2 separate regions of the Homo sapiens genome follow, and region 2 is linked to region 1. A link means that fine-mapping ties the variant in region 1 to the plasma level of a protein whose gene starts in the linked region. Region 1 holds a variant in brackets. A gene starts in the other region. All regions are shown on their reverse strands.

Region 1 (4,000 bases):
ACAAGAAAATGTATGCAAAAGACTTAGCCCAGTGCTTGGCCCAAATTAAATGCTCAAAAGATCAGTACCTCACATTGGTGTTAGAAATTTGCTGAGTGTTAAATGAGATAATGCATATACAACTGAAAAAAAGGTATAATGTATATGTGATAGTTAAGGAAGGCAATGCCAGCTGCTGTAACAGATGCAATTGTCACTTCAGTGGTTTAACACAGTATAAGTTTATTTCTCACTAATGTTACAACCCACTGCTGGCATTTCTGGTTGGGCAATCTGCCTCCATGCGGTGACTCAGGCACTCAGGCTCCTTCTATCTTGTGGCTCTACCATTTTCAACACTTACTTTGAACTCTGTTCCATTCAGCAGGCAGGTGGGGAAAGAGAGACCGAGGAGACATACCTGCTTGTTAATCATTTCAGCCCTGAAGTGATGCACATCACTTTTTCTCACAGTCTTTTGGTCAGAGTTAGTCACATGGCCCTACCTAGATGCAAAGGAACCTGGGAAATGTAGTCCATGCATGATCAACTGCTGCCCAAGAAAAACTCTGGAAGGAAAGCAAGAATCCGTGGTGGTCACCTCTACTTAGTCCAGCACCCTCATTTCCAAGGGGTGACCTGGAAATGACTCAAGAGTTGGGTAGTGACCCAAGAGTGGGTTGGAGCTGGGGGTGTGTACAGGGTATGTCTCCTTTCCTTGAGCCAGGGGCGATGTTGGTGCTGGAGGCTGCATCATTCCCTAGACCAAGTTAGTCCAACCTGGTGCCTGCAGGTCGCGTGCAGCCCAGGATGGCTTTGAATGAGGCCCAACACAAATTTGTAAACTTTCTTAAAATATTATGAGTTTTTTTTTGCAAATTTTTTTTTTTAGCTCATCAGCCATCATTAGTGTTAGTGTATTTTATGTGTGGCTCGAGACAATTTTTTTCTTTTAATGTGGCCCAGGGAGCCAAAAAATGGGACGGCCCTGCCCTAGACAGAGGGTAACGACAATGATTCCCGTTGGAGCACTGGACACAGAGCAATGATTCCCGTTGGAGTGCCGGACACAGAGCAATGATTCCCGTTGGAGCACTGGACACAGAGCACTCCGTCCCTGTGATCACATCTAACCCCTAAATAGCCCCAACAGGGCATTTTCATTATTACCATCACTCATGTCATGCACAGGTGAGGAAACTGAGGCACAGCATGGCTCCATGCCTTGCCTAAGTTCTCACAGCAAGGCAGGAGCAGACCCAGGCCTTGAACTCAGATCTCAAGGTGAACACGGTCCTCTTGGAGGCCAGGGTCACACCAGAGGGTCCCACATGCAGGGACGGGGTAAAGGATTCTCCACTTGCCCCAGCAAATTTTCAGACACCAAGGCCTGTGGGACAAGGCCTGGCTGCTGTGAGGCTGAATAAGCAAACCAGTGGAAGAACAAAGAAGAATGGTTCTTTCTGGAACCTCTAGTTTGTTCTTTGAGCACATTAAATATGCCCCTGTAACCTTGCTGACTCTCTTCATTGGCTCTGTAAACCCTCAGTGGCTGTCGCGGGCATTTTTTGTACACACTGTATTTAACACAGAGCCAGATGCACCAAAGGGCTCAGCATATATTTGTTGAATAAAAGAAAGAAAGCCTCAAGGGAAAATTTATCTAAATTACAACGATTTTTCCATTTGTGCGTGCAGTTGTGGACTGTGGAGGTTGACAGAGCTCCTATGAAGTACTAGGCCCAACTTGGAGTCTTCTCATAGCCCTGGGAGGCAGGTCCCACTGATATCTCTGGTTAATAGACAGGGAAACGGAGGCACTCCCCTGTGGCTCTGCATTGGTCGAGCCGGCCTGATTCTTTGTCCCTCCCACTGTCTGCTGCCTGGCACTGCCTCTGAGTCACAAGAGGCTGAAAGTGACCTCTGGG[C/T]GTCTATAATTAGGCCCTGCCTGACGTCAGGGCAGACGGATTTTCTGGCTTGGCCAACGTCGGCCTATCGTTCACTGCGTGCCAGGCACTGAGTTAAGTCCATTACATGCATTCCCTGACACTTGCAGCAACCCCACTAGGCCCCCATTCTCCAAGGAGAAAACTGAGGCCCAGGAGGGTCATGCCCTGGCCTGAGGTTACTCAGCTGGGAGGAGGTTGAGGCTGGATTTGAGCATAGACCTCTGCAGCTCCGGTAGCCACCAGGCTCTGTCAGTGATCAGTGGTAGCTGTATATTTCTAGATCAAGGGAAGGTTTCAACTGAGCCAGCAGGACAGAGGTGTGCTGAGGCTTGGTGGGCACTGGCCATTCTCACCTCTGACCACTGGCTTCCTAGCTTACTCTGCTCCTTTTTCCTCTTTCTCTAATTTTTTCCCACCTCCTGGCCTTTGCACATGGCTTTGCCTTTGCCTTTGCCTGAAATGCCCTTCACCCATATCCTCCTGTGTCCAGCTCCTTCTTATCTATCAGGTTTCTGTGTAATTGTCACCTCCTCCAGGAAGTCTTCCCTGACCACACCTGCTTCCAGTCTGTTGAGTTATTTTCTTCTTTGAACTGATCTCCAGGTGAAATGATCTCTACCTGTTTATTGCTTGTTTCTTCAACTAGATGTGAACTACATGAGGGCAGACTGTGTCTCTCTTGTTCCTTATGTCTCCAGCCTCGGGGACTCAGCTTAGCACAAAGTAGTTGTCCTAAAAATAGTCGTTAAGTGAGTGACTAACTGAAGGTGAGGGCTTCCCGGGGCAAGAAGCCACCAGGTTGGATGAACAGGTGAACATCTATGGGGACAGAGCCTCAGGTTGCCTGTATGCCCCAGAGCGGGATCTCCGCCAGATGTAGGGGGTCAAGGAGTAGGATCCCGCCTCTTGGAGAGGGAGTCTGGGCTCTGTGCAACAGGGCACTGAGGACAGCCAGTCCAGGTCTGGGACAGTGTGGCCTCTCTTTTTGACATGGGGACATCAGACACTGGTGGCTCCTGGGTCAGAGCCAGTTCTGGATTGTGGCCTGGGTGTCCTGATAAGCCAACAGCCTTTGTCAGGCCGAGCTCCAGGGACCTGCCTGGTGGAGCAGGAAGGACTTGAAGGTGGGGTTGCCGGAAGGTGAGAGACAGGTGTGACCTGGGGTAGGGAAAGAGGGATGTTTGTCATGACTTGGCCTGGCTGCCTTCTTTCCCAAGGCCTGGCGTCTCCATCACGCAAGCTTGTTGAAGGAATGAATGAAGGTATCATCCTAGACAGACCCCAAACAAACAGGAGATGCTCAATCTGGTTCAGCGTGCTTCCTAAGAGTTAATGCTTCTTATTCTTATAACAACCCACGAGTTGGGTCCTATCATTATCCCCATTTTTACAGAGGAGAAAACTGAGGCACAGAGAAATGAAGAGATTTCCCCAAATTCACACAGCTGGGGCTGGGATTTGAACCTGGCCTTCTGGCTCCACAGCGTGATGCCTTTAACTGTCCACTGTACTGCTTGTTTTGGGCTAAAAGCCAAGACTAAAAGGCAGTGGTGTGTACACTTTTGAAACGGAGCCGAAGCTTTCCATGAGTGAATTCTTATTGCTCAGAAACCCTACGTGCAAAATACAGGCCATGGGAGCCTCCCTGACTGAAGTGGGAATTAGGGTTGCGAGACCGCCACACTCATTCATTCCCACATACCCCATCCCCGTCGTGTACCCTCTTCCCACGGGTTCTGCCTCCTACTTTTCTCAAGAATTTTCACATTCCTAAAAGCAGGAAACAGACAGAGTTGACCTTTCCATTGCTGTTGTTGCTAAACTCTTTCTCGGCCCCTAGAACTCTTATAAAGGATACCAATCTGGGGAAGGGGTTTATGAATGAGAGCCCCCTGCCCAGCATCCTCCCTCTTTGGAGGCCTCTGAAACCCCATTAGGGTCCCATGGGGTAAGGATGCGCTCAGGGATCCTGCAGGATTCGAACTTTCCAGGCATTGTATCTCCCTAAGACAATCTAAGATTTCTAAAGATATTTTTTCTTTTCATGGAGACATAATTTATATACAGTAATA
Region 2 (4,529 bases), not on the chromosome of region 1:
TTTGTCAAATTCTATTCTTTATATTGAATTTCCCTTTTTATAACTTTAACTCTGATTTTTTTTGCCTTTTTCCCTTTAATGGACTTAGATGATCTTTTTATGTAATATCTTTAATTTGTTATCATTAGTTTTATATGACATATTCTTACTCATACCTCTTTTCGATTAGAGTCAGAGTAAACTTATGCCTGTTAAGTTTAAGACTCAGCATACTAGTCCCCACTTAACTTAGAATAATTTGAGCATGAAATAGGAGAATATGCAAGCAACCATGAGAATTGCTCAAAATTGACTACAGGCATTTTCAAAAACAGTTAATGACCTAATCATTATTTTTTAAAATACTGAGAGTCACAATATTAATCATAATGAACTCCTTTAAGCTCCCTGTAATGGTCATAAGTACTTCTGTAATTCTGTTGCAATTCAACAGTAATCGATGATATCTGCATTAATTTTTAAATTTGACTATTTGTCTATAATTTTAAATGCTAGTATTCTAATGAACATCTACTTCTTTCATCCTTATTTCCACAGTCGTAATTGAGAATCAAAGTAGAAGTATTGACCCTCTAAATGATTTTCTCTTTTAAATTAAGAAACAAATGAATGAAATGTAGGTAAGGCATTGAACATACAACAGTTTAAAAGTTTTTTGCTTCTCACCTGCATTTAAATTACCACATGAAATTGTATTTTTCTTGGGAGAACAGTTCTAAGATTTAAAAGTAATATAATTCTAAAATATTTAGTGGATTCTGGTTCTTTCGCAAATAAATATAGTTGAAACAACTTATTGTTCAGGTCATCAGAGTAATTCTCAGGTTTGTGTATGTGCAAATTGATATTCTCTTCCGTATATCTCCCTACAAAACATGGTAAGGATGTCTGAACATAATTTTTTAATCTATCACAATCCTATACAACCTTTAGAAAAAAGCTCAGCATAATCCAAGATACAGTTTTTCTCAGTCTCACGAACTTTGTAGAACTCCACTTATAGAGCATCCCTACTGAATTTTAACAAGTTATTGCAATGCCAGATGCCCAATTATTTAGTCTCGGAAACTCATTGCTCAAACATAAGGCATACATTCAGTACCTGAGAACGGCATCCTATTTTCCAAACATTTAGTTTCTTTTGTAGAAACATCCTCACTTTATCCTGGCATTTATTGCCTTACAATTTGCAATTTGCGTGTAGGAATTGCTTACTCTTATTTTGGGTGGCATTAGGAGATATACAAATAGGTTATATTTACTCTTGTTTCAACTTTTTGCCATAAAATCCCAGCAGGAAATAAAGTCGTGTTTTGTTTCCTTTATTTAAAAAAGCTTCATCTTACAGTTTTTACATTCTGGCAACATGGCAAGAAAGGATGGCTTTGCAGAACAGAGTGTGTCAAAAATCCTAAGTGGCTGGGAGATGAAGTGCACAATCACAGAACGCAGTCACTGGCAAAGGAATGTCAGCCACTTACCAATAAGATGCCAGACTCCACTGTCCTTCCTCTGTGACTCTCAATTCCTGTCTCCCATCCTCCTGCCCATCAGCACAGTTCAGAGAGAGCGGTTCCTCGGGTCCTTTGCAGCCTGTGGCAGAGGCGAATTGCGGAGTTCTTAATCATTCAGAGGGAATCCTCCAGCTTGCCCTGCCTCTCGCAGCAGACGGGACCCAGGTAACGCATCCTCTCCGCCCCGAGCTTTAATGGCACTTTGGCTGCCGCCTTCTCGCAGTTCCGCTCCCCCACGCCGTAGTTGGTTATATTGGGAAGTAGGTGCGGCGCCTCCTGCGGCTGGTGTGTTTGGGGCTCGCGTGTTTTCCTCCAATGCGTCCGCGCGCCCTGCGCCCCGCGCCTCTGACTGGCTGTGTCCTCCCGGGGCGGCCCCTCGCCCCTCCCCGGCCGCCCGCGCTGTCACCGGCGCCCGCGTCCAGCGCCTCACTGCCTCTTGCTGCAAAGGTTCATTGAGCATGTCCCTGGGCTTAACGAACTGTGCGCCTCCCGGAGGGTGCTCTGTGTTTCTCCACTCGTCTCACTAGTCAACCGGCATTTTCCTTCCCTGCTAAGTACAGAGGACCTGCCCCCCTTCCCCGAGCGTTTCTGCTCTGCAACCCCTCCGTATTTAACATTCATAGATTACAAAGCAAACGTGCTGGCTGGAGTCGGCACGGGAGATCCAGGCGAGAGTCCCTTCCTCCGCTCCTGTCTTCACTCTGATTCCTGTAGTCCCCGGCTCACACCTCTGACAGCAGCAGCACAGACTGACGCGTTCACTTAGGTCGGTTTGAGAGTGGACTTTTTCACTTTGCAGAATTTTCTTAAGTCCTGAATGGGAAGCACTTCTCTTTTGTTTCTGCACTTACGCGTTTCATCTAAGGACTATCAGGCTCTGCCTGTTTATATTTCTCTTTGATTTGGGGTGTTGACTCAGTTCTAAAAAAAAGCGAAGGAATGGTCTCAGCAACCTTTTTTTCGGAATTTTTATATTACAATGGCTGTAATTGGAAAAATAACACAGGTAGTAAATCCACAGTGTGGCAGCTTTAGTGCCATTGTTCTGCCAGTCCTCCTCTCTACTTTTTTTTTTTTTTTCCTCTCAGTCTTTGAGTCGTTTTCCAATTCCCACGATTGGGCTGATGGTAATTGGGTATTTGTTAAATAAATTATATAACATTTCCTTTGCAATATATTTCCATAGAGAATGTGGTTTGCACCTGTATTTAATGGAAAGGAAATCCCACGTACTGCTTTCTATCTCTGTGTCTGTATAAGAAACTGCATGGGAGTCTAGGGTCGCACCCCGTGTCCGCTGGTGTCCGTTTTTCATGTGTGTTTGAGAGCAGCCTGACCCTGGACTGACGCTGATTCTTCTGCTCACTGAATCCCCCGATGGGGTCTGACTGGCTCTAATTGGCAAGGAGAGTACAGTGCCAGGCAGCCTGTAGCTGGAAGCCGTCTACCACTAGCCCTGTGTTCTTTCTCTTGCAGTTTTTCTGGTAATTAAAATTAGTCTTTTCCTGTTTCTTGGCTGCTTCTCATTCATCCAATGATGTACAAACACCCAGTCTCTGCTTTTAATCGCTATCCTCAGGATCTAGGCTGATTGCTTGTTCTGTAGCAAAGACAAATTTGTGTGCATTTAATACTTCTCCACTCTTCCATACTTTTTATATTCGTGTTCCTGCTTTCCAGTAACTAGGTTATCTTCTTTATGTGTTAACTGAGGGATCGTTGTGGAGATTCCCCTTCTGTGGCTTTTTCTCTGCCCCACTGGCTCTTCTCCTCTGTCAGGCTGTCGGTTCACAGAGAGAACTACCAGGACTTTTATAACCACATTAAATACATCACAAAATAAATTCAAAGTGTAGGAGCTCTAACGCATTCTTTTTATTGTTCGATGAGGTTTTTGCCTTTAAAAGTGTATAATTGAGCACATGCAGCCTGAAAGAGGGATCGGGAGTGTAGAAAGCTTTCTGAAAGTTCTCTTCCCTTCTTAGAACACCATTCTATATTACCCATGATCCGATAATTTGGGCATTTTGAGTCATTATGTCACATAATTTCTTTCAACTAGCTTTGCCCTAGAAAGGATGTAAGTTGGCTTATAAAAATCTATTCAGTTTAAAAAAATGAATAAAAAATGTAGGTCAGTGAGATCAAGACAAACGGTAAAGTGATAGGAGGAGAGATAAGATGAAGCCAGAAATGAGGTTTATAGAGAAAACTGCATTGATGTTTTTGTTACAAATGGTGCTAGGTCTGCCATTAACTTTGTTAGCAGCCAATGTAAAGAAGGAAATGCTATCGGTCACATGATTCATGGTGCCCTCCTACCATTAACATGAACAAGAAAATTTACCTTTTACATGATGTAAATGGACTAAATATTTCTCCTTTCTTAAGCAAGAACTAAATAAAAGCTTTTAATGTTTCTACTTTTTATAAAGAGAGCAATATTATCACAAGACTATGGTGTGAATATATTTTTGAAACAAGTAGATAATGTAATAGCACTTTTCCTTGCGAAGTTATCTGATGCTTTAGAGGGAGAGAAAGGAAACGTTGAATCTGTTTAATTAAAAATAGTAAGGTCTATTTCTGTCAGTTCAAATTTAAAATGTTGACTTCAATCATTATTTGGGGGTGACTAGGTTACCTGGCTACACTTCATTCAGGACCCAGAAAGAGTGACTATATTTATTCTCATGTCTTTTATGACTTTTAATGTTCTAATTTGTAATAATATACAATTATATATTCCCTATTAATATCTATATATGTAACAGACAAACTGTTAGTCTATCTGACTCATCTTTCTTTAGAATTTTGCTGTTATGGAGTTAACTTATGTACTGTATATTTTTACAATTTTCTGCTTGGAGAGTAAGGGCTCTATAGATCAGGTACACTTCTGTATCCTTTTATATCCACAGTGTTCAGGTTTAAGCAGGTCAATGTCTGGAATTAGAGAAACAACAGTGCTTAAAATAAGAAACAAACAAACAAAACTCCTTGTTAGAGTTCCAC

Which allele goes with the higher level. Alleles are on the strand shown, and positions count from the first base shown. The strength of an association depends on the size of the effect and on how common the allele is.
As copies of C replace T in region 1, the plasma level of the protein whose gene starts at base 1,803 in region 2 goes up (strong association).

The links. PIP is the chance, under the fine-mapping model, that this variant and not a neighbour inherited with it causes the effect. The UK Biobank Pharma Proteomics Project read protein levels with antibody pairs (Olink). The fine-mapping took linkage between variants from a reference panel, not from the people measured, so its PIPs are less certain.
Region 2: it holds the start of CNTN5, and the variant in region 1 is fine-mapped to the plasma level of the CNTN5 protein (UK Biobank, PIP above 0.99).

Annotation. Positions count from the first base shown.
Region 1 is chr22:27,684,626-27,688,625 of GRCh38, reverse strand. The region is part of intron 4 of CPMER (cytoplasmic mesoderm regulator); the gene reads left to right. Among named protein-coding and RNA genes, the nearest start is that of CPMER, 28 kb to the left of the region's middle. The variant C/T (reference allele first, on the strand shown) is at 1,908.
Region 2 is chr11:99,018,223-99,022,751 of GRCh38, reverse strand. It overlaps CNTN5 (contactin 5), which reads right to left and starts at 1,803. Exons shown (of 25, transcript NM_014361.4): 1 at 1,482-1,803.